7 linked regions of the Homo sapiens genome follow. The protein of the gene in region 2 interacts with the protein of the main gene of each other region in a biochemical or structural test. Each region holds a gene or a part of one and is shown on either strand. Other genes may lie near its edges.

What was found.
Region 1: the proteins of ATP2B4 (region 2) and PDLIM3 interact in a test that uses a peptide from one of them, tested with the Homo sapiens proteins (one large-scale study listed by IntAct).
Region 3: the proteins of ATP2B4 (region 2) and ARHGEF11 interact in a test that uses a peptide from one of them, tested with the Homo sapiens proteins (one large-scale study listed by IntAct).
Region 4: the proteins of ATP2B4 (region 2) and CARD14 interact in a test that uses a peptide from one of them, tested with the Homo sapiens proteins (one large-scale study listed by IntAct).
Region 5: the proteins of ATP2B4 (region 2) and PATJ interact in a test that uses a peptide from one of them, tested with the Homo sapiens proteins (one large-scale study listed by IntAct).
Region 6: the proteins of ATP2B4 (region 2) and ARHGAP23 interact in a test that uses a peptide from one of them, tested with the Homo sapiens proteins (one large-scale study listed by IntAct).
Region 7: the proteins of ATP2B4 (region 2) and GRIP1 interact in a test that uses a peptide from one of them, tested with the Homo sapiens proteins (one large-scale study listed by IntAct).

The regions. Positions count from the first base shown.
Region 1 is NC_000004.12:185,518,508-185,522,007, forward strand, and holds part of PDLIM3 (PDZ and LIM domain protein 3), read right to left. Parts: intron 1-3,500. UniProt on the Homo sapiens protein: May play a role in the organization of actin filament arrays within muscle cells.
Region 2 is NC_000001.11:203,720,832-203,724,331, reverse strand, and holds part of ATP2B4 (plasma membrane calcium-transporting ATPase 4), read right to left. Parts: intron 3,136-3,500; coding exon 2,922-3,135; intron 1,855-2,921; coding exon 1,643-1,854; intron 452-1,642; coding exon 344-451; intron 1-343. UniProt on the Homo sapiens protein: Calcium/calmodulin-regulated and magnesium-dependent enzyme that catalyzes the hydrolysis of ATP coupled with the transport of calcium out of the cell. By regulating sperm cell calcium homeostasis, may play a role in sperm motility.
Region 3 is NC_000001.11:156,937,743-156,941,242, forward strand, and holds part of ARHGEF11 (rho guanine nucleotide exchange factor 11), read right to left. Parts: intron 3,332-3,500; exon of another isoform or gene 3,316-3,331; coding exon of another isoform or gene 3,313-3,315; intron 2,684-3,312; coding exon 2,465-2,683; intron 2,169-2,464; coding exon 1,806-2,168; intron 772-1,805; coding exon 676-771; intron 1-675. UniProt on the Homo sapiens protein: May play a role in the regulation of RhoA GTPase by guanine nucleotide-binding alpha-12 (GNA12) and alpha-13 (GNA13). Acts as guanine nucleotide exchange factor (GEF) for RhoA GTPase and may act as GTPase-activating protein (GAP) for GNA12 and GNA13.
Region 4 is NC_000017.11:80,168,563-80,172,829, forward strand, and holds the start of CARD14 (caspase recruitment domain-containing protein 14), read left to right. Parts: upstream 1-1,467; 5' UTR 1,468-1,494; exon of another isoform or gene 1,495-1,574; intron 1,575-4,267. UniProt on the Homo sapiens protein: Acts as a scaffolding protein that can activate the inflammatory transcription factor NF-kappa-B and p38/JNK MAP kinase signaling pathways.
Region 5 is NC_000001.11:62,158,480-62,161,447, reverse strand, and holds part of PATJ (inaD-like protein), read right to left. Parts: intron 541-2,968; coding exon 394-540; 3' UTR 1-393.
Region 6 is NC_000017.11:38,466,464-38,469,963, reverse strand, and holds part of ARHGAP23 (rho GTPase-activating protein 23), read right to left. Parts: coding exon 2,633-3,500; intron 821-2,632; coding exon 665-820; intron 441-664; coding exon 329-440; intron 118-328; coding exon 60-117; intron 1-59.
Region 7 is NC_000012.12:66,462,577-66,466,076, reverse strand, and holds part of GRIP1 (glutamate receptor-interacting protein 1), read left to right. Parts: intron 1-654; coding exon 655-802; intron 803-2,983; coding exon 2,984-3,153; intron 3,154-3,500. UniProt on the Homo sapiens protein: May play a role as a localized scaffold for the assembly of a multiprotein signaling complex and as mediator of the trafficking of its binding partners at specific subcellular location in neurons.

The sequences.
Region 1 (3,500 bases), on a different chromosome or scaffold from region 2:
TGAAAAAATGGTGGGCATATAAGAGAAACAAACTCTATGAAGTGATCTTATATTTGATCAAGGCATGATGAAGAAATTATATTTCATCACGTTTGAAGTTTAGAATCACTTCCTCCTCATACTCACCCCTCAAATAAACAGTAAAGTCACCCTCATCATCCTTTTTTCTCCAGTGAGCAGTTTCAAGTGTTTCCCATCTCTCACTGGGAAGAGCTTGAGGAAATGGTGACTATGAAAGCTTGTTTTATATGGGCTGCCTTCCAGTTACCAAAACACTTTTTATTTGTGAAAATAAAAATGACTTTATCCCACACTCTTCTTGACTGTGTATGTAAACTCTATTATCTTCTCTGGCAAGGATGCAATCCTTTTTATGGAAATGGAGACAGCTTTCTTCTTATTTAGATAAGAACCATTTTTGTTTCTGAAAGCATCTTTCTTGTATTGTGACAGGCACAGTATACCTTTGAGTTGTTCCACTAACATTAAGCAAATATGAGGGTTATGGTTTGAGAATGTAAGCTTTGAAAAAGGACAAAGAGCTTCATTAACATACTCTTAGTCAAGAGCAACACTTCGTACTAAAAAATGGACCATTTTGTCTATTTTTGTACAGAAAAATAGAGAAAAATAGATTGTGTTCAGGATTGCATGGAAGGCATTTATTCAGGTGCTGGGAGTTGATCTAAACAACAACTAACGTGCCCTTTAAGCCTAAGATTCAAGTCTAAACTCAGAGAAACAAAACTTAGCTATTTGATGATAGCATGGAAAAATTATTATTATTATTATTTGTGAGACGGAGTCTTACTCTGTTGCCCAGGCTGGAGTGCAGTGGTGCGATCTTGGCTCACTGCAACCTCCACCTCTTGGGTTCAAGTGATTCTCCTGCCTCAGCCTCCCCAGTAGCTGGGACCACAGGCGTGTGCCACCACATCTGGCTAATTTTTTGTATTTCTAGTAGAGACAGGGTTTCACCATGTTGACCAGGCTGGTCTCAAACTCCTGACCTCAGGTGATCCACCTGCCTCGGCCTCCCAAAGTGCTGGGACTACAGGCGTGAGCCACCATGCCCGGCCACATTTTAAAAATCTAGATATTAAAATTTTATATCAACTATTCCTATAACCATATAAGAAAATGTCTCCTTAGCTTAAACCTATTCACAGGGGAAAAAAACCCCCAGAAATAAACATACTAATATTTAATATCTGTGGCTGGGCTTGGATGGTATAGTTTTTTCCCCAATAAGTAAGTGAGAAAGTGTATTTTATTCCAATGTCAAAGGTCACATAACTTACAATAAAAGTTTGACTTGGGTTGAGAAACAAAAACTCAAATTTCATATTGTTCCATGGCCTTTTGCTATTCATCTGCAATGACATCCTGAAGCATGATAATATTAATGGCATTTGTTTCTCTAACTGACACGTATTTGCTGTCCAGAAGATTGCTGTATTTGCAGAGTTGTCATTTTGATAAAAAAGAAAAAGACATCTTTTTTGCACAGCTTTGTATTACTTAGAAAAACAAAAAACCCTATAACCATAGCTTAGCTTTTCTCTCGTCTCAGTCCACAAGTGAAACTCACTGTTTGACTTTTATCAGCACGTTTTGTTCTGGTTTACGCTAAAGGATTTTTGGATAGCAGGAGATACACTGCAATTTAGTTATTTTTGTGTAGGGAATGTCTGTCCTGAAGTACCAAGTTACATAAACTGGCCGTGCAGAAATCTGGCCTAAGAGTCTCATAAGGAGTAGAAATCCTTTGGTTCATTAGTAGAACTGAATTGTTCTTATCTTGGAGCATTTCAAACACCGGCCTCTTGGAGAGGATGTCAGTAAGAATTAGTCATGACGCAAAGTCATGGAATGTTTCAAGGCTCCATCTGACTGGCTGCTATAGCCCTTAACCTAATCTCAACCTTTAAAAAAAAAACAATTTAATCTCCTTTTTCTCATTTGTAGTATTGTAAATATTCATATTTTCTAACCCCCAAATGTAGGACACAAGGGCTAATACATGCTTGACAAGAGGTCAGAGTATTTAAAATTAGGATTATGCCTTAAAATCCCATCCTTAGAATAACCATAGTCATAAATTAATACTCATAGACTTGCAATAGAAGCCTCTGCTAGAGCTACAACTTGGAAAATTACCCTTAAACTCCAATTCTGGAGAGATGTTAGCAAAACGTGGGCTCCCATCCTGGTCTAAACTCACTTTGTGCTTAGTAAATACTTGCTGAATTACTTACATGCTGGGGTGACGGATGCAACCATGATGAAGGATCACTGGGGATTTGGTACTTCGGTCAGATCTATCTAGTTGGCCTCATTTCTTGCATCTCATATTAACGAAATTGGGTTTAAAAATTAGGAGAAATTCTTGCATGGAAAAATAAGTTGCAAAGGATGCAGTGCAATATTGGATGTGTGCTGTGTAGGGAAAAGGAAATGCAGAGTCCCTTCTGGTTGGTCCAGGTAATGATAAGAGGCTGAGTGGTCAATAAGTGCATGTCTATTGACTTTAATTCTTAAAAGCACCATATAGTCTCTTTTTCTCATGTGTCACCTCCAGGTGATAAATTGATGACGGTGGGAGGAAGCAGGTCAGCCTGGGCATCTCTGCAAAAGGCTAGATACAAGTGAGAACTCTACCTCAAGAACTTTCCTTTTTTCTTCCACTATTTTCTTCTAGCAAAGAAAATGTTGACTAGAGGTGTCATTATTCACCAGCCCACCTAGTATGTCAGGGGGAGTCGCCATCAGCATTCAGATCCCTTCTCATTATATTTATTATCTGTGCCATCCATTTTCTTTTGCTCACTTACCCCAAAGAGCAAAAGTCTTACCTAGCCTAAGTATCCCACTCAACTTTCTTTTCTTTTCTTTTTTTTTTTTTTTGAGACAGGGTCTTGCTCTGTCACCCAAGCTGGAGTGCAGTGGTGCAATCACAGCTCACTGCAGCCTCGACATCCTGGGCTCAAGCACTCCTCCCACCTCAGCCTTCTGTGTAGCTGGGACTTACAGGTGTGTACCAACATGCCCTGGTTAATTTTTAAAATTTATAGAAATGGGGTCTCACCATGTTGCCCAGGCTGGTCTCAAACTCCAGGGCTCAAGCAATCTTTTTGCCTCTGCCTCCCAAAGGATTATAGGTGTGAGTCAATGCGCCTGGCCCCACTCAACTTTCAAGATTACTTTCCATGCAACAGCTGAGAGTGATGGCAGAACACCATTTTGAGAACTGGCTCCCAGGACAGGTCCTGGCAATGTTAGAAAATGCACAGCTCATTTTTAGGCCCTCCAGTTCCTTTCATCCATTTGTCAGCTATTTATTGAGCTGTGGGCTATTTATTGAGCTGGAGGGACTCAGAGGGAAGACAACAGCCTCAAGGTTCCTGCCTTCATGAACATATTCTCTGTCCTGCTCACTCCTTTTGGGGCTTATTTTCTCCTACTTTTGCTTTTAGTGGATTTTAGATTCAGACTCTACC
Region 2 (3,500 bases):
GTTAGCCAGGACGGTCTTGATTTCCTGACCTCGTGATCTGCCTGCCTCGGCCTCCCAAAGTGCTGGGATTACAGGTGTGAGCCACTGCGCCCAGCCAAGCTAAGGGATTTTTCTACCTCCAGGCTTAGTTAGAGAAGAATTCTGAAACCTCTGAAGTGATCATTCCACCTTGAGATCCTATGAGATGGCAAGAACTTGAAAACTTGAGTGGGGGTGGGGAGGGAAGAGGAGAAGATGAAGATGAGGAGCTGGGGGGTCTCCACCGTTGCTTGTTCCATCTCATGTAGAGGAGGGGAGTTCTGCAGGCTGTGAGAATGCACCAGGAGGGTGTGCCGGTACTCACCTGGCCCCACAGAAGTTCTCCAATCCCAATGAAGAGACACCACAGCCACTGAGACAGGCTGAGGCTTGTACAACTGAAGGGTTTACCCCCAAATTCCACGATGAAAATCTAGAACAGAGAAAGGGGCAGCCCACCATCAAGGAAATGACTAACAGGCAGCTGGCCCTCCAGCCAAGGCCCCCAAAGCCACATCATCCCACTCCTCAGGATCCTTGGGTACAAGTCCCGATTTGCTTGCAGGGGAAGGGAAAAGAAGAAATCTCAAAGGGGAGACAGACAAAAACAGCCTTTAAGAGCACTCTGATGGGGAGACAGACATAGTTACTGTGACTATGATTAACAGACAATCTGGAGGAGTTAGGGGAGCTGGTGGCTTCTTGTGACTAAAGCCAGTTAGTGACAAGGAGAAGGTACAGTGATGGAGTTAGGAACTGAGGATGAGGTGGGAGGATTGCCTGAACCTGGGAGACTGAGGCTGCACTCCCCCTGGGGGAGGGGGGAAAAGAGAGAGAGAGAGAGAGGCAGAGGGAGAGAGAGAGAGAGAGAGAGAGAGAGAGAGAGAGAGAGATATCTGTCTCAAACGAAAAAAAAAAAAACAAAAAGAAAAAATGGCAGGCGTAATAACACTTTGGGAGGCGGGAGGATTGCTTGAGGCCAGGAGTTTGAGACCAGCCTGAGCAACAGAGTGAGACCCCATCTGTATTTTTAAAATTAAAAAAAAAAAAAAAAAGGAATTGAGGATGGGGACAAATAAAGGGAGGTGCCCTGCTGAGGGATGGGACATGATCAGCTCATAGTCTCATATTGGAGGAGTCCAAGCTGGGCTGACTATGTAATATACATGTACAAATCCCATTACTTCTCTTTCTTTGAGTTGCACAACACTTTTTATCATAAGCCCTTCAGAACAAAGGGCAGGGACAGGGAGAGTCTATACTAGATGTGCATGCACATTTCATATAGGCTGACAGGAGCCATAGAAAGGGACTAGAAGAGAATACTTCTTTTGGTCATTCTGTGAAATTTCTGTGTATTTAGAAAGATCATGAAAGGATTTTAGAAGTATTATTTTATTTCCAGTCAACATGCTGCCCTGCACTGGAGCTCTTGACACAATGGGCTCCAATTCTAGAGCAATATGCAAAAGAAAGCAGATTGGGAATCCCAAAGTGTTCAACTTACAGCTCCAGTCCCCGTAATTCCTTCATTCCTTTTCCTAGGTATGTAGGGAACCCTGGCTCCCAGCTTCTGCCCTTTATCATTCCAGATCTCCTGCCCCAACTGCAGATAGAATCTCACCTGGCAGATGAATGTGCCCAAGACTACAGAGCAGAAGATAATGTTGCGGTAGATGCCTGAAAAGACGTTCTTCTCTCCATGGATCTTTCGGGAGTTGATTTCATTGAAGAGCTGCATCAGCACGAAGGTGTTAAAAACAATGGTATAGTGCTGGCTGGGTGGTGAATGTAGAGGTGCCTTCCTCCCACTATCAATATCAAAGAATTTCTCACCTAGTGGGGAGAGGAGAAGCACTGGAGGTTAAGTGTGGTCTGAACTAAGAGTAAGAATGTGTTGGTACAGATATACTGCTTGCTTATGGCTGGTGTCCATTCTAATTAATCAATATCTGAGCTGCACTAGTTATTTATTTTTTTGACACAGGGTCTCACTCTGTCACCCAGGCTGGAGCGCAGTGGCATGATCATGGCTCACTGCAGCCTGGACCTTCCTGCTCAAGTGATCCTTCCATCTCAGCCTCCCAAATAGCTGGGACTACAGGCGTGCACCACCATGCCTGGCTAATTTTTTGTTGTACTAGTTATTAAACATTTTAAATGTTAGTTCTGGTCTTGACTTATTTTACCTTCTCTCTCAGTTTGCTGCATTGATACTTGCTCTCATGTAGTGCAGCATGGTAGTAAGACTATGTGCGCTGGAGTCAGGCAATCATAGGTTTGAATTTTACTGCAACTATGTACTCATTATGGGACCTGAGGTTAATTTTTTGAATCTGTAAAAAAAGAAATAAGCCAGGCGTGGTGGCTCATGCCTGTAATCCCAGCACTCTGGGGGGCTGAGGTGGGCAGATCACAAGGTCAGGAGATCGAGCCCAGCCTGGCCAACATGATGAAACCCCATCTCTACTAAAAATACAAAAAGTAGCCGGGTGTGGTGGCGCATGCCTGTAATCCCAGCTATTTGGGAGGCTGACGCAGGAAAATCACTTGAACCTGGGAGGCAGACGTTGCAGTGACCCGAGTTAGCGCCACTGCACTCCAGCCTGGGTGACAGAGCGAGACTCTGTCTCCAAAAAGAAAAAAAAAAAAAAAAAAAGAAAGAAAGAAATAATAAAGCCTCCCTTGTGAAATTCTTGAGTACACACAGTACACACTGTACTCAAGAGTACTGTATGAGTACATATAGTAGCATAATGCACCGTGTAGCGGGAGCACAGCAAGCACTGGGAGGTGAAGCTGCGCTTATTCCTGACCTGTGCACTTGCTCTCACGCTACCTTCTTTCTCTGCCCCCACCTCCAACCAGGACCCCAGCTGCTACCCACCCCCAAAGTGGCTCACCCGCAAAGACAAGGATAAAGATGACAATGAGCTGATAGAATGCATGGCCCAAGATGTTCTTCATCATAGTGCGTGAGATCAGAGGCTTATTTCGGCCATAGGGGCGCCGCTTCAACAGAGATTCCGTAGGGGGCTCTGTGGCCAGGGCCAATGAAGCAAAAGTGTCCATGATCAGATTAACCCACAACATCTGCACAGCTTTCAATGGGGAATCCTGGCGGGGAGAAGAACCAGTCCTTTTAGCTTTTCTCTGAAACCAGCCCACCTTTGCCCTGTCGATGGCCCAGCTCCCACGACCCACCTAGACTTGGAATCTGGCCACTTCCTAGCTGAGTGACTGTGAGAAAGCTACTTAACTTCCTTGAGCCTCAAGTTCCTCACCCATAAAATGGGGATAATAATACCTACTTCACAAGGTCATTTTTGAAGAATACAGATAGTGCATATAAATGCTTATTACAGTGGCTGACACATAAGTGCTAAGCTAAGGCCTGTAAGTTACCATCTACATAAGCAGATGAAGACAGCAGACTTAGAAGAGCTAACTCCTGTCCCAATGTCATGGGGAAACGCTGTCTT
Region 3 (3,500 bases), about 47 Mb from region 2:
GGAGAAGTGGCAGAGCTGCAGTGTTTCATTTGGGGAAATTGGAGTGGCTCCCCCTCCTTGAGTAAACAGATTGTGAGCTGGTTTCAGGCTCTTCTGAAAGGAGCAGGCAGCAGCCCTCTTGCCCTGCCTGACTCCAGCTCTGGATGAACTACAGCCCTGCCCTGCCCCTCTTCCATCCATGCCACGATCCTCTGGAGGTCCCTTGACCCAACCAAGGGGTGTCAGAGAGAGCTGGAGGAAGGACGTGGAGGGTTCCTGACAGGCAGGAAGCACAGAGAACCACCGCGGAATCTGGGAGGCTCTTTCAGCCGATTTCCACAGTGACACTGGAGCGGCGGCTGAGGTGGGGAAGTGGCTGCTTGCATATCAGGTGAAGGACACTAGGTCCCCACCCCCAGGCCAGGCTTCCCTGCCCCTCCCACAATTGCACACAGGCATTTATCCCTGCCATTCTGAACAGGAGCCTGGACAGGTGGCTTCTTAAGGCTGGATGGACAGCCAGCCTTTAGAACCAGATCTCCCCGTCTTTAGAGCCAGATCTTCCTCCTCCCCATTCCAGGCAGCTGAGGGAGCTTGTGGGTGTGTGTGTGACCATGGGCAGGGGTCCGACTCTGCCCTCACAGGTTCCACACTCCAGTCTTGGCCTGTCTTTAGCTCCAAGGAGAAAGTTATTACCCGTAGCCTTTGTTCCGCCTTCCACTTCAGGTGGCCCAGGCTCTGACTGGCCACTCTCTGGTAGTGCAGGGACAACCTTGCTGCCTGCCACCTCAGCTGCACCGACACCACCACCACCAGGAAGAGGAGAGACCAAAACACAAGGAAAGGGAAGGGAGAGAGAACAGGAAGGAGAGAGGGCAGGAGGTGGGGACAGGGGGAGGAGAAAATGGGAAGAACAAGGTGAACACAAGATCATACACGATGACATCCCAGGCAGTGCAGAGAACTTTCCACCAATTCACCGAGAGACAGAGAAGGAAGGTCAGTTCCCAGAAACCCAGGAGACAGGTGGCCCTTGGGCAGATGGAATGAAAAATGCTGCTGGAAGGGAGGCAGAGTGGAATCCCAGGGGAGGGCAGGCCCACTAGCGTGGAACCCCATCCCATGTGTGCCCCAGGCTTTGTTCTACTTTTCTTGCCACCCTCTCAGACCAGCCCACTCTTCCCGGGGTGGGGACCTTCCTCCCTGGGCTCATCTATTGGCCTCCCTGTGAGCTTGTCTTGGCTTTTCTTGTCTCAAGGCCGTCCATGGTGTTTCCCAACCCGGGGTGCCCTCCCTGCCACCTTGTTCACTCCCCACATCCCTCACTCGCCAAATGTCTTCCCAGCTTTGTCCTCCACCCCTTCCAGTCCCAGCTGCCACCTCTACTGCCCTTGGAGCTGTTGCCTGGCGTGAGGGGCTGCATGCACCTGCCCTGTCTTTCCCGGCCTGAGGCTCCTGAGAAGAGTGGCTCTTTTCCCTGGGAACAGGAGATCAGTGAGGAGCACTAACAGAGACTGGTACTGGTAGTTGGTTTGTGCCAGGCAGAAAGAAATGTCCTTATGTGCTATAAAACAAAGTTCAGAGATGATTCAGAATTTTGTCTAAAGCCACACAGATATTAAGTGGCAGAGCTAAGCTCTGAATCTCGAATGTCCAACTCCAAAGCCTGCCTGATATCGGCGTTGTCTCCTTCTTCCAGGACCCAGCGTAGGTCTCTGCTCACACGGTACCCAGGGGGAGTATAGGGAAGGAAGCAGCTGTTCGGAAGACTTATCTCACCTAGCAAGGGTGCTTGTCTCCCCACTGGACACTCCCATTTATTTTACCTTTTCTCACAACTTTGTAACCTCCTGCTGCCTCTGTGCTTGAAGCATCTTCAGCCAGATTCCTGTCCAGTTCTGGAGACTCCCATATCCCAGAATTTCTGGTCCTTGGGGGTAGGTGTTCCAGAGAACAGAGACCCATGTCTTCCTGCTCTGGCCGTTCCCCCTCCAGCCCTGCAAGCTGGGTGTTGTCCCCTTCACCCCCAGGGGGTGCTTGCCCTGGGGAGCCTGGGTCCCAGGGGTGAGAGGTGACGCTGATGACAGAAGGTGTGGGTGTCAGGTCGTCCTCGGGCTCCTGGGCAGCCTGAGTTTCCATGGTGTGACCTGGCAGCAGGCTCCACAGGATCAGATGTCGCAGGTTCTCCACTGGAGGGGAAACAGGGTGATGTCTTCCCAGCATGGGACTGCACACCACGCCAGAAGGATCGTTGTACTGCCCCACTGACCCCAAGGTGGTGACCTCAGGCACAGGTGAAGCTGGAGGGCTCTGGCCAACTAGCTGGTGGGGGTTGGGTGGGGAATGACATCTGTCTCCGCATCCATCTCTCCTCAAGCACACCAGGAAGAGCCTTCGGGAAGGTGGAGGGTGCAGGCGCCTGCCAGTTCACACTGGGTGTGCGACTGGGGACCAGGGGCTGACGGCAGGGCCTTGAAGCACTCACCATCTTCCAGAGCGGAGTCAGCGAGCCCTTCCATGAACAGAGGGCCTGGGAAGGCCAAGTGGATGGGGTTCCTTGTCCTGATGCCCCTGTTCTCTCCATCCAGGGATGTGGAAGGGCAAGGCAGGACACCCAGTTCCTCTTCCTCTGCACTGCCCTCCTGCTCAGGGTCCTCTAGCAGGACCTGGTGCTTCCCTTGGACCCTCTGCTGGGACCCAGTGCCTGTTTCGGATGAGAGAAGATTGTAAGGCAGGGAAAGGGAGAGGGCACGTATGGGAGAGCCTATGGGCAGCTTTGGAGCCAAGGGGCTGGGAACACTGACTTATTCTACAGTTGTTTACTGAGAACTTCCCATGGCCAGCACTGTCCCAGGCTCTTGGCATACAACAGTAAGCAAAACAAAAAGATCCCTGCCTATGTTGAGCTTACATTCTAGGGGAGGGACATACAAAAATAAGACACTTCAGTCAATTATGTAGTTTGTTAGAAGGCAGTAACTTCCACCGGAAAGAAGAAAACAACAACAGGGCATGGGGCTAGGGGCTGGACAGTGCTGGCTACAGTATTAAACAGATTGGGCCAAGAGGACACTGGAATGAAGACGTGAAGGAGGTGTGGCGTTAGGAGGAAAAGCATTCTAAGCAGAAGGAAACAACAGGGACCCAGCCAGGAAACCCGAGATTTCTCCTGAAACCCAAGACCCCAGGTTATTTCTCACGCAAGCTCTCAATGAGAATGCTGTCCCCTCTACCAATCCCATCACAGTAACTGCATCTTAAGCCCTTTGAGCTCCCCAGCCCCGCCATGTTTTCCATTCTCATTGTTGCAGCATGTATCTCCCTCCCCAACAGTAACCCCTGGCTGGAGGATGCAGGGCCCGTGGATCCCGCCAGACTGCTCGTCTTCTTCCACAGCTGATGCCGTCACCCAGAGAGGCTGGGTGGGAATTTCTGGTCAGGTGAGCGAGTTCACCCTTTCTTAAGTCTGTTCAGTCTGCTCTCCTTCCTCTTCCAGACTCTTCCTCCCGCCCTGTTTCTTC
Region 4 (4,267 bases), on a different chromosome or scaffold from region 2:
CTGGCAAGCTTCCCCACTGTGGGGGAGGGCTTATCATGAGGTCTGCTGGAGGAAACTAAGAGAGCTGAGCCTTAGGGGCTTAAATGAACTGCCTGAGGGGAAGCTGACACCCAGTGGGGCTGTAACCCTGGTTGGAGAGTTCATGTCTGCACCTGGCCTCGGCCTGCGTTCTCACTTGCTCTGCCCAACTGGCTGTGCCTTCAGCCGGCTCATCACCAGGAGATTTGGGTTGGAGCTACTGCTCAGCCACCATGAGCTACATGACCTTGAAGGCCGATCTTTGATTGTCCGCAGGATAATCCTGAAGGTTCTCAGGCCATGGACCTGTGAATTTCCCTTCTTTCAGTGTCTGCATCATTGGGAACCAAGCCCCTAACCAATGTTTATTCATTCGCTCAACCAATATTTGTGGAATATCACAGCCCTAGGGGTGGGGACACAGCAGGGAACAAGAAAGACAAGAATTATTGTCCTCAGTAGGTTACTGTGGAGTGGGGAGGCTGGCAGGAAGCCACGTAACTAGAATACACGTTAGGTCAAGGCAGTATTCCCACAGAGAAGATGGAACAGGGAAGGGGAGTGAAGGCCAGGATGGGAGGTCTACGGACTTAAGTAGGATGATCTGGGAAGTAGCATTTGAGTAGAGTCTGGAAGGAGGGATGGGAAAGAGTGTTCCAGGCAGTGGGAACAGCAGGTGCAAAGGCCCTGGGGCAGAAGTGTGCCTGGACTGTCAAGACTGTTGGGCTGTGTGTCTGGAGCAGGTAAAAGAGAGATAAGGTCAGCAAGGACCTGATAAGCAGAGCCTCATGGTCACGCTGAGGACTCCAGGACCTGTACACCGAAGGGAATGACAGGAGCTGACTCATGCCCTAGCAGGACTTCTCTGTCTGCTGTGTTGAGCGCTGGTGATGGGGGCGTGGGAAGAAGTTAGGAGCCATTACAGAGGTCCCGGTGGGCCATGATCAGGACACCACAATGCAGGTGGTGAGAATGGATCGGATTCTAGACATATCTCAAGGTGGAGGACCAAGACTTTCATCTAAATCTAAACAATAGTTATGAAATGTTAACTTGAGATGGATCTATTGGAATTATTCAGATACTTCCAATAATGGATCATGAGAACCAAGAAAGGCCCTAGAATTTATCCTGATCTTCGTAGGATTTTCCCAAGGGTAGAAATGATGATGAACTGGGTGACCGTTCACAAAGGAGAGAGGATTCCCAGCCCCCAAGCCTGAAGCCTTCCCCTCAATCACCCTCAATCACCATCTTCTGTGGGTCGACCAGATGCACGGACTGTTCTCAGCCATCCCTGTGGTTCTTACGGCAATGTCTAGCTGTGGGACTGCACTGGTGCTTCGATGGCTCATAGAAGCCCCATATAAGGCACTGCTCCTGTGGGATGTGCCTGTCAAACCTGCTTGTCCACTGCCGTTCAGTTCAGCCAGAGATTGGGCCACATTCAGTCCTCGCTTCCCTGGGAGGGGGAAGGTAAGTGCGCGCAGTCCATCCGGCGAAGAGCAGGTCAGCCTACGGAGGGCTCAGCCTACGGAGGGGCTCAGCCGACACAGGTCTGATGGGGCCCGAGAGTGGTCCCAGGGGAGTGGGAGGGGCCGGCATCTTCCTCATCAGGAGTGGAGGAGCTGCCTTGTATGTGGACTAGAGAACAGAAAACGGCTTGTCTGTGTTGCTGGGTCAATCACTGGAACATTCTCTGAATGCTGAGTTCTGCCTTAAAACAGCATGGGTCATGCTAGATGAAAGGGATCTCTGTTTTATACTCTCATCTCTTCGCTATTGCCGTGGGATGAAAGACAGCAGAAGGAAGGTGTCTAAGTTCAGAACAAAGTGAGCAAGACCAGCTGGCTGCTGTTGGTAGCAGAGGCACAGCCAGCCTGTCATGGCACTGGGGGGCCGAGGTGAGCTGTGCCCCCTCCTCCTGGGCTTGTGACCCTCTGCCCCCCATGGGGTATGTACATGTGTGTGTGTGCGTGTGCGTGTGTGTATGTGTACATGCCTTCTTCCCTACTTCACTGGCAAGGGAAGAGACTGACACTTGGGTTAGGAGAAGGATGTTGACCTGGGAGGGGTCAAATAAGGAGAACCCACATCTTAGATGCTCAGGATTTTATGATCTTAGGCTCTTCTAGAATTGCTGTACAGTTAGATTCAGAGTTTGGAATTAGAGATCTCTGGGCCCTCCCCTCCCCTCCCGTCCCCTCCCCTCCCGTCCCCTCCCCTCCTCTCCCCTCCCCTCCTCTCCCCTCTCCTCCCCTCCCCTCTTCTCTCCTTTTTCAGAAGTCTCCCTCTGTCGCCCAGGCTAGAGTTGCAGTGGCACAATCTCGGCTCACTGCAATTTCTGCCTCCTGGGTTCAGGTGATTCTCCTGCCTCAGTCTCCCAAGTAGCTGGGACTATAGGTGCACGCCACCACACCTGGTTAATTTTTTTATTTTTAGTAGAGACAGGGTTTTGTCACGTTGGCTAGGCTGGTCTCAAACTCCTGACTTCAGGTAATCCGCCCATCTTGGTCTCCCAAAGTGCTGGGATTACGGGCGTGAGCCACGGCTCCTGGCGCCTTCCCATTCACCTTCCCCTTCCCCTCCCCTTCCTCCCTCCCTCCCTCCCTCCCTCCCTCCCTCCCTTCCTTCCTTCCTTCCTTCCTTCCTTCCTTCCTTCCTTCTCTCTCTCCTTCCCTTCCTTCCTCTCTCTTTCTTTTCTTCTTTTCTTTCTTTCTTTCTCTCTCTCTCTCTTTCTTTCTTTTCCTTTTTTTGAGCCAGGGTCTTGCTCTGTCACCCAGGCTGGAGGGCAGTGGCACAATCATAGCTCACTGCAGCCTTGAACTCTTGAGCTCAAGCAATCCTCCTGCCTTGGCCTCCAAAGTGCTGGGATTACAGGCCTGAGCCACTGTGCCCAGCCCTAAGGTTTTTTGTTTTGTTTTGTTTTGTTTTACTGTTAGGACTAACCCTTATTTACACTGGGACAAGTTACAAAGAAACTCCTGCAATTGTTAACTGCCATTGGAGACTACTGTAAGTTGCTTCATGGCAACTGCAGAAGGGACTAGTGACTTCTATTTAGCTCCACCCACTGATGCTTGAAGTTCAGTGTGGCTCTGGGGGCTCCAGAAGCCTGAGGGGCAGCTGGCTGGGGCAGTTGGCTGGGGTCTGGAGAGTTCTGCAGAGCCCCTGTCTTCAGCTGCTGGTGAGGCAGCTTTGGCTTGAGCTGCCCTGGCTTTCTGAGTTCAGTCTGATGGGAGGGCACAGTCAGCACCCTCAGACCCTCCTCAGGAGTCTTGTGAGGCTCGGGCAAGTCAGGGGCAGAGGGACAATCCAACTAGAGGACCCTCCCAGACCCGGTCGTTGCCACCTGGACCCAGCCCCAGGAAGGCACCCGAGAAACCTGTAGTCCTCGGCTGACCACCAGTCCTGGTCCTCAGGATATCCGCAGAGACCTGGCTGTCCAGAACTCCCAGGGTTTCAGCTGCAAGCTGGAGATGTGGCCCCTTGGCAACTCGATATAGTAAGATACTGGAGAGCGTGCCAGAGTGTCATTTGCTAGAAACAAACATTATACTGCGGTAAGCCCTAGTTTTTCAGTCATTGGCTCTTTGGCACCAACTTAATCACAAGGCCATTGGCCCCAAAGAAAGGCCTTGTAGGCGACTGTTTAGGGACACCTGTATTTTCCATCTGCCTTGGAACCTCTAGGCTCAGGCCGAATGCCTATTGAAGTAGATGTTTCGTAAGAGATTTGGGGGCAAATACTGGGATTTTATAAAGATGCTGCACTCTCCTTCACTAAGTAGAAAGCTGAGAAATCCTGCCCTGAGGGGAAGAAACAGTTGTCTTCCTGACTGATGCATCCTAGACCAGCCAAGACTTCCTCCCGCTTTCCTTCTTCTAGAACTTTCCCCACTTCAGCCAGTATCTGTCATCCCCTGGGCTCCCACCCTCTCCATGTGCCGCTTTCATCGGGGCTGAGGGGAGCAGGAGAGGAGACGTTTCTGCTGGTGTCCCCGCTGTAGCTGGAGGAGCTCGGCGTCGGCGTGCCTTCGCCTCCCCTTGCCATGATGCCCCCTAAACCGAGTCTGTATTGAGAGAGAAAGGTGGCACCGTTGATCATTACTCCAGGACAAGAGTCATAAAAGGACTGTCCCAGACAACCTAGGACCCCAGTGTTCTGTGGCGAACACTTCTAGGATGAGGCCCATCTCCTTCTCTGTTTCATCAATTGGATTAATTTTATTGTTTTCTAAAATAATGA
Region 5 (2,968 bases), about 140 Mb from region 2:
AGAATCGCTCCAACCTGGGAGGCCGAGGTTGCAGTGAGCCAAGATTGCGCCATTGCACTCCAGCCTGGGTGACAGAGTGAGACTCCGTCTCAAAAAAAAAAAAAAAAAAAAAAAAAGAAATCGGAACACTGAAATTAAATGCAAAACAGGTAGACTCATTTAAGTTTTAGAAATCAACCTCGCCAACAGGTGACAGGAACTGGGAAACATTAGGAGATGATTGTTGATTTGGGAAATTCACATGAAACCTCAGCCATTTCTCCTGAGCAGAGAGGGCAAGAAATAAGAATGAAGGTGCATTTTAGTTGAGGGTGCTTTTCATACCCACTCAGAACTTCATCTGCCTGTGGATATTCTAAACAACAACATCTATCTTGTGATCAGGCCCGAGGCTCATGACAGCACAGTTAAGGTTACAGTCCCTCTCTGGTGTTTTAGAATGGCGACTGCTTGCTCATGAGTAACACCTTCCAGGGTCTCGCCATTAACAGCTAAAATCTGATCCCCTCGTTTTAATCGGCCGTCATCTGCAGCTGCTCCCTACAAACAAGAAACATTTCAGTTTAATCCAGGGTAAAACACAGTTTATATTAAATTGATATTAAAACCTCTAACATCTGTCTGGTGTGCATATTAAAAGAGTAACTTTAAAAACTACCAATTAAGTTTTTTCTAGGTAATGTTTTAAATTAGGAAAAAAGTAAGATATGCTGTTTGAATAATAATGGTTGAATAGTAACTATAATTATGGATAATCTAAATAACATACTAGTAGAAATGTACTGATACACTGCTTTTAATACAAGTAGAACCTTATTTCACTATTTAGTATTAAATGGAATTGGATGTCATATCATGTCCTATTCATGAAAACGTAATATACAGAAAAAGGCAGATAGAACTGAATCTGGTGTTAGTCTTACTGCAAATACCACCATTATACAGAGTTCCCATTGCATTATTAAGCTATCAGCACTGTGATCTGTCAAAAATAAGTGTAGTCTTTAAATGGGTGAATTGTATGGTAAGTGAATTATATCTCAATAAAGCTGTTATCTACATATAAATATATACGAGTGTAGCATCTCTAAAATTTTGTAATATATTCAAAACCTTCCACTTTATCTTTGATCATCTAAATAGGTTTCTAAATGACTACTTTTATTATATACTCAGTCATGCATAGTTCCTCAAAACGGCACAAAGCCAGTGAAACTTCAGGGTTTTTTCACTCTAAAGCTGCATATCTAAAAATGCCACGATATTACTAGAAACATTTTGGACTGGTAAGGGAAGAAAAGACCTTAAAAAATGATTTACAGGAGGTTTCACCATCTGTAGGGGTAACTGTTTCAGTCCCTTGAAAAGTCAGTGCCAGAAGAATCCTCTAAATGAGGTCAAACTTCAGTGGGCAACCAAAGCCCACAGGCACTTGGCCCTCGACCGACTCAATCAGAAGCCGAGCTAGGAGGCACTAACGCTCCTGAGATCTGTGTCCATGTGCAGCTTGGAGGTCCTGAGGTGCTGGGGAATCAGACAGGTTTTCTAAACCGTGAGAATGGTGGAATTTCTAAATGAATGTGCAATAAAGAATATTCAAAACCTGCTGGGTGCAGTGGCTCATGCCTGTAATCCCAGCACTTTGGGAATCTCAGGCGAGAGGATTGCTTGAGCTCAGGAGTTTGAGACCAGCCTGGGCAACATGGTGAAACTGTCTCTACAAAAAATTAGCCAGGCGTGGTGGCTTATGCCTGTGGTCCCAGCTCCTCGGGAGGCTGAGGCAGGAGGATCACTTGAACCTGCAGAGGTTGGAGTGAGCTGAGATAGTGCCACTGCACTCCAGACTGGGTGACAGAGTGAGCTCTGTCTCAGGAAAAAAAAAAAAAAAAAAAGTATTCGAAATCAGGTCTATACTGTGGGCAAAATATCAAAACTAAATATTAATAACTTGCAACTGGCTGGACATGGTGGCTCATGCCTGTAATCCCAGCACTTTGGGTGGTCAAGGCAGGAGGATCACCTGAAATCAGGAGTTCAAGATCAGACTGGCCAACATGGTGAAATCCTGTCTCTACTAAAAATACAAAAATTAGCTGGATGTGATGGCGCATGCCTGTAATCCCAGCTACTTGGGAGGCTGAGGCTGGAGAATCACTTGAACCTGGGAGGCGGAGGTTGCAGTGAGCTGAGATCATCCCATTGCACTCAGCCTGGGCAAAAAGAGTAAACTCTGTCTCAAAAATAAACCCCAAAACTTGCAACTTCACTCAAATCTTTTAAGAAAGTAATGTGTCAACTGTATTAAAGACAAAATTAAACAAGTAATTTTACTGGATAAAATCAGAATTACTAGGCAAAGTTGATTTTATTAAATTTTACATGCTAAGATTTAAGGGCTTCAGTAAATCTCAGATATCTGTGTAAATTAATTTTTTAAAAACTATGTTAAGCTATTTATCTTTTTTAGTAATGCAAGGAAAGAATTTTTAAATTTTTTTGAGAAGGAGTTTCACTCTTGTCGCCCAGGCTGGAGTGCAATGGTGCGATCTCGGTTCACTGCAAACTCCACCTCCCAGGTTCAAGCGATTCTCCTGCCTCAGCCTCCCAAGTAGTTGGTATTACAGGCGTCTGCCACCAGGCCCGGCTAATTTTTGTATTTTTAGTAGAAACAGAGTTTCACTATGTTGGCCAAGCTGGTCTCGAACTCTTTTTTTTTGTTTTTTTTTTGAGACAGAGTCTCGCTCTGTCGCCCAGGCTGGAATGCAGTGGTGCAATCTCGGCTCACTGCAAGCTCTGCCTCGCCGGTTCACACCATTCTCCTGCCTCAGCCTCCCGAGTAGCTGGGACTACAGGCGCCCGCCACCACGCCTGGCTAATTTTTTGTATTTTTAGTAGAGACGGAGTTTTTTACCGTGTTAGCCAGGATGGTCTCAATCTCCTGACCTCGTGATCCGCCCACCTTGGCCTC
Region 6 (3,500 bases), on a different chromosome or scaffold from region 2:
GACACCCTCTCTCCCCACACCCTCGCTCCTGCGCACGCACACACACTTGCAGCTCTCACCCCGTCGGTGAAGAAGCTCCGGAGCATCCGCAGGCTGGGTATGCGGTTTGGCAGGCGCCTGGAAAGCGAGGGTCGAGGGTGAGGGATGTGGGCAGCAAAGCTGGGACCTCACTATCTCGTCACCCACCAAACCCCAAGCCCAGAAGCCTTCCAGCGGGGGAGGCACACTGTCCCATGCATAGAGGACCCCCAGGGCCAAGAGCCCTGCCCCAGAGCAGCTGGCCACGGTGGCTGTGGCCACCCCACCCCGTGTCCGGACAGGGCCTCACCGCAGAACCCGGCCCTCGTCGCGGAAGGTGTTGAGTCCATCATCGCAGGACTTGGAGCGCTCCGTGGTGATGGCCAGCAGGTAGGAGGAGCGGCGGCCAGCCTTGATGCTGCCTGCAAAGCCGCCCACATCGGGCCTCAGGGTCAGCGGGGCAGCAGGTCAGGGGCTTCCCAGAGCCCTCCCTTCTGGGCAGGGGCAGGAGGTGACTCTCCCAAGGGGCCGCAGGAGAAGCGGAAACCAGAGGAAGAGGCCAGACATCAAGCAGCAGGCCCAACAGAGACCCCTGGGACTGGGCAGCGAGGGAGAGGGTGGGGCTGGGGGTGTGGGGAGTGCTCACTGCAGTCCTGCGAGTAATGGCGTCCGAGGGTGAAAGTGAAGGTCGGGGAAGATGGGCTGGTGCCCAGGACAGGGGCTGAGTTCATGGCACTGGAGACCACAGCAGAGGCAGGGACGTGCTTGGCTTGGAGGTCAATGCTGGGGCTGGTGGGCTCATCTATGCATGTGGAAGGAGAAAGGTGTGAAGGCAGCAGACAGCGGAGCCTGCCTGCCTCCACCCTAGCCTTGCCAGCCCCCGTGCCACTCGCCTCCAGGCTCAGACACATCCCAAAGGGTCCTGCTGGCAACATGCCCACTGTCAAGCATGACTGGCCCACTGTCCAGACTGTGGCCATGGAATCCTTACCCTCAGGAGTGGGGCTGAGCCACCCTCCTTAGACCGGGCTCCAGAGGACAGAGCCAATATTCCCCCATCAGACTGGGAGCCTGCTGAGGGCAGGGACGGTGTCTCCCTCATCAGACTGAGGGCACTCAGAGAGAATGAATTATGTCTCCCCTCTCAGACCAAGAGCCTCCTGAGGGCAGGGGCAGTGTCTTCCCCATCAGACTGAGAGCTTCCTAAGGGCAAAAGCTCCCCCATCAGCTGGGGCTCCTCAAGGGCAGAGATGACATCTCCCCCTCAAACAGACTGTGCTGTGGAAGAAGAGACTGCCTCTCCCGGCCACAGCCTAGAGCCTTCCTTACTAGCAGAAGGGGCTGTGTCTCTGCTCCACCGAAGGCTGGCTGGGGGAGCCAGGGCTGTGTCTTCCCCCTGCCCCAGGCCTCCTCCCTCTCACTGTCTGGTAGGGTGAGCTCATCTCCCATCTACCACCATCCCTCTCCATTACCCTGCATCTTGCTCTTTCTCCCCAGCCCCGTCTATCCTGCTCCCTCTTGGACACCTCATATTCAACAGTCCTGAACTTTGTCCCCCTCTCACTCCCAACACGGGGGTGAGGCACCACCCCCAAGCCCGGCCAGAAACCTGGGCATCACCCAGCCACTCTACTCTCTTGCCTCTCCCTCTCCTGCATCCAGTCGAAGGCAAGGCAAGCCTTAGAGGGTTCCCTCTGCTCTCAAAAGCCAACCCCAGTGACTAATGAGACCCTTGGGCCTGAAAGGGTCCTCACAACCTGGAAGGGGGTCCTGCCTCTCTCCCTTCAGGGTCTTTGCATATTCTATTCCCTCTCCTTGAATATTCTTCCCCTGATAAACTCCTTCTCATCCTTCAAGTCTTAGCCCAAATGTTCTTTCTCCAAGATTCTCACCATAGCCCTTCTCTGAGCCCGTCTCCTCAAGCTCCCTGTCCCACGACACGCCCATCCCAATGGATTGTCCCTGCATGTCCAACACCCTCTGCTGGGCCATCCAGTCCAGGAGAGCATGGAGCCATGCACAGGGCCTGACACAAATATCTGTTGAGTCGATGGAGGGATGGAGGGTGGATGGAAAGGACAAAGAGGGAAAGATACAAAGGGAAGATGGAAGGAAGAATGGGAGAATGGAAGGAAGAGTCAAAGGAAAGAAAGATGGATGAATGGGTGGAAGAAAGGATGGAACAAATGAATGAACAAAAGAAGGAGGGAGAGAGGAAGGAAAGAAGGAAGAATAGATGGATGGATAGATGGATGAATGGATGGAACAAATGAATGAACAAAGGAGGGAGAGAGGAAGGAAAGAAGGAAGGAAGAACAGATGATGGATGGATGGATGGATGGGGAGAGGGAAAAAAGAAAGAGTGCGTGGAAAGATGCTGAAAGGATAAATGAATGAGAGGTAGGATGGAAGAAAGGATGACAGAGAACAGAAAGAAAGATGGAAGAACAGATGGATGGATGGATGAACAGATGAATGAATTGACAGAGAAACAAGATGATCCCACCAGCACCCAGCCGAATTCTGCCCATGGCAGACAGGCAGATGGGGTACAGCAGGACACAGACAGCCGACAGCTAAGTCCCCCAGGACAGCCACATGTACCATCACTCACCAATAAAGGGGATGGAAGCCAGAGAGTCTTCGGTGGTGGCCAAAGGGGCCACCTTCCTGCCCAGGCGTTCCCCTCGCCCACTGGCCTCTGGCTCTGGGGACTCGTCACCAAATCCAAGGTTCATCTGTCTTGCGGGGGTCAGCTGAACCTTGCGGCCCGTCGGGGGCTTCTGCCTCAGGACCACCTCATCGCCGCGATCCTCCGCAGGAGGCTCCAGGGCCCGGGTGCTGGGTTCCGGCCGTACAACCCTGGGTGGCTCGGAGGCCTCTGGTGGGAATGACGCAGGGGACTGGGCCAGGTTGAAGGTAGGCAGCCCCCCAAAGGGTGAGTCCCGGAAGGAGAGCGCATGGAGGAGGCCGGTCCGGCGCTGGAATGATGGGCTGTAGCTCCGGTAGCCGATGTACCCGAGGTCATCCAGGCCCTGCAGGCCAGACGGGGGTGGGGCCTGGGGCCCTGGCAGGTCCCGAGTTGGGCAGGCGGGGGTGCGGGCAGACGAACGCTGGGAAGCCCAGCCACACCGCTCAAAGCGGGGTGACACCAGTGCCCCTGGCCCCAGTGCCTCGGCAGAACGGGTGGCCCGGCTCAAGTAGTCATCTGAGCGAGCTCGGTGCCAGCCCTCCTGGCCCAGCTGGCTCAAAGCATCCTGGGAGGTGGAGCAGGGCCACGGGCGGGGGGCAGCCACCTCCTCCAACCGGTCCTGGGAGGCGCTGCGGGCCCGGGGGGCCATGGCTGGGCACCGTCTCTCCCCCGCCCGGCGGGGTACCTGGTTTGACAGCCAGTGTGACAAGGCCTGCTGGCACTCCAGTCTGCTGGGGGGCACCCGGCTGCCAGGCTCTGGGAAGGCACGGGGCGTCCGGGGCTCCGAGGA
Region 7 (3,500 bases), on a different chromosome or scaffold from region 2:
TATATGAAGTTAAGCTTTACAAATTCAACTTAGTGTAACATTCCTACTACTTGGCTAGAGACATCATCCATCCATCCATTCTTCTGATTATCTATCTACCCATCCATTCATCCTCCCATCCCTCTTGTCATTCTTTTATTTATCCACCCATCCATCCTTCTTTTCTTTCTTCCTCCCTTCCTCCCTTCCTTTCTTTCTTCTTTCCTTCCTTTCTTTTTTATATCCATCCTTTCATCCATTCATTCATCCATCCGTCTATTTATTCCTGGTAGGTGCTAAGATATTTATTGAATTAAGTAATTAATTTAAAAAACCTTTACTGAGAGACCTAGTATATGCTCGGCATTGTGCCAAGCACTGTGGAGGGGATAAAGATACATAAGATATTATCCCAAGTGACATGAAGCTTAAAATCTCATTGAAGAGATGAACATTACACATACATTAACACAATACAAGCTGAATGGAACAGGTGTGTTAAGAGGTGCCCTATGAATTTATTATTGGCTGTGGGGATATTATATGGAGGGAAATCTAAGTTTCAGTGATAAAATTAACAGGCTAACACCAAACTGAATATTCTTCATCTCTTTCTTTTGTCTCTTTGCTTATTTGTTTTATTTGTTTTGTTTTCTAAAATTTGTTCTTTGACAGACTCTGTGGCAACAGCATCCGGGCCACTACTAGTCGAAGTTGCCAAAACTCCTGGTGCCAGCCTTGGGGTTGCCCTAACTACCTCGATGTGCTGTAACAAACAAGTCATTGTCATAGACAAAATCAAATCTGCAAGTATTGCAGACAGGTAAGTATTGTAGAAAGTGCCTACTTTTCCGCCAGGCGCAGTGGCTCACGCCTGTAATCCCAACACTTTGGGAGGCCGAGGCGGGTGAATCACCTGAGGTCAGGAGTTCGAGACCAGCTTGGCCAACATGGTGAAACCCCATCTCTACTAAAAATACAAGAAATTAGCCAGTCATGGTGGCAGGTGCCTGTAATCCCAGCTACTCGGGAGGCTGAGGCATGAGAATCACTTAAACTCGCGAGGCAGAGGTTGCAGTGAGCTGAACCATTGCACTCCAGCCTGGGCAACAAGAGTGAAACTCCATCTCAAAAAAAAAAAAAGAAAGAAAGAAAGAAAGAAAGTGCCCCTTTACAAAATTGCATGTGTGCAATTTTAAATATATATACATACATATGTACACACACTTGTAATACACATATACACATGCATATACACATACACACACACACACACACAGTTCTCTTGCCAGTTTATACAGGTTTCACACACAGAAGCAAGTTACTGTTACAGGGCTTAAAAATTCACCTATGTGTCAGCCACCCCATGATGTCACTTCACGTCATCCAGATGTTTGGTGTGGCCTTTAGCAATAGAAAAAAAAATCAAGCAACTAAGCAAGTTTTCTTACTGTGTCCTAGGGCACTAGCCTGTTCTTAATGTAGGGTAGCTGAGTAGATCTTTCTTAAACCCCATGCAGAGCAGTGATGGGTTTTCCTGAATTGTTGACAATTAAATCCTGCTACCATAAAATCTGATTTCTTTGTTTCTTAAATAAATAAAACAATACTTTTTAAAATATTTTTTACAATACTTTTAAAAAGTCCTATACTCTCATAGCATGTTAATCTTAGGATTTTACAACCTTCGAGGGTGTCTTAAAACATCATTCGCTTCAATGCCACAATAAAAATGAAATTTCATGTTTCTAATTAATATTTTATACTCGTAAGGTAAAAGGGGAAGATAAAAAAAGACTACCTTTCCATCTAATTAATTATTTTACAGCTCCTGGTAAGAAAAACCTCATCTCCCATAGCTAAAGCACTCCAAGTGCAAAAAATGTGGAATTATGTTTTTAGTTGGAAGATATGACTTGAAATGCTTTTGTCTTGAGACGTAGACTATTCACACTGGGAATTTATAGATATACTGCACCTGAATGACCAGTCTCCCCTGTATGTTTCCAGCCCTCTTCTCCACGTGCCCCTCAACCTGCCTTTCCACCTCCAGCCATGGTGCAGTGAACTGCAGCAACCCCCCGTAGTGGTCAGTCTACATCTCCATTGTGGTCTTACCCAACATTCAGTCCTTATCAGTGACAGCCATTGATCCAGGGGTGTTGTGCAGTTCAATGGCACAGGATGCTTTAATTTTCTCCCTCTGTTTTTTCCCATTCCACAGGGGGTAACCAGTTTAAGGAGCTGTTCACTTGACTGGTATGTGGGGATGCTGACGACTGCGCTAGCTTTTCTTAACTCATCCAGTAGCCAGCTCTTGAGTTCAGCAAGATGTAGCAGCTAGCCCCTTCCCTGCCCCCATCTTTCCCCTTGACTCACCATGCAGGCCTGGTTTTATTACTCACTTGACTCCTGCATAATTTCTACCATTATCAAGAGCTTTTATACTAATACATGTTCAACTCCAGAATAACATAATAATAAAGAACTGGTGATCTTGGAGTTTGTGTGAGGATTCCAAGGAAGTATTACTGAAATCTCCCCAAGTTATTCTTCTTTACACATAAAATAGACCCTATTCCAATTCTGAGAGTCATGTTTGAGATTCTGAAGATTTACCCACTCATGTTTATAGATAGAAAAGCCTAGAACAAAAAAACACAGACAAAAGTCCAGGGGAAACATTTTCCTGTTTTTCCCTTTCCTCTTGCTCGCTTTCCCTCAACTTTCCACACAAGCACTCCAAAATAAGATTTTTTTTTTAAAGAAAGACAAGAGAAAACATTTCGTTGAATTTTTCTCTATTTTCCACAAGGTTTTACTTCCTTGTTCATATTCAAGGTACTTAAAATTTGGCAGATGGTGTTTCCTATAACACTCAAACTTTTCTTTTCTTTTATTTTAAGTAAATGAAAAACTGTGAAATTTTAACTATGAAGGACATGAAAGTCAGATTCCAAAGAGGAAGGCACTGCCTCTTACCGAGTATTTCTCCTTTCCGTAGATGTGGCGCATTGCATGTGGGAGATCACATCCTCTCCATCGATGGAACCAGCATGGAGTACTGTACACTTGCAGAAGCAACCCAGTTCCTGGCCAACACCACTGACCAGGTCAAGCTTGAGATCCTTCCCCATCATCAGACCCGGCTGGCCCTAAAGGGGCCCGACCATGGTGAGATGGTCCACCTGGATCAAGCTCTTTCTCTGGCCCTCACAGTGTTGCTCCCTCTAGCAGAGTTAGACAGCAGAAAGACACTGGGTCTCATTCTGCCTTTTTTTTTTTTTTTTTTTTTTGAGATGGAGTCTCACTCTGTCCCCCAGACTGGAATGCAGTAGCATGATCTCGGTTGACTCCAACCTCTGCCTCCTGGGTTCAAGCCATTCTCCTACCTCAGCCTCCCGAGTAGCTGGGATTACAGGTGACCGCCACCATGCCCAGCTAATTTTTGTATTTTTAATAGAGACAGGGTTTCACCATGTTGGTCAGACTCATCATTTCTTTTCAAAACAAGGTTATGT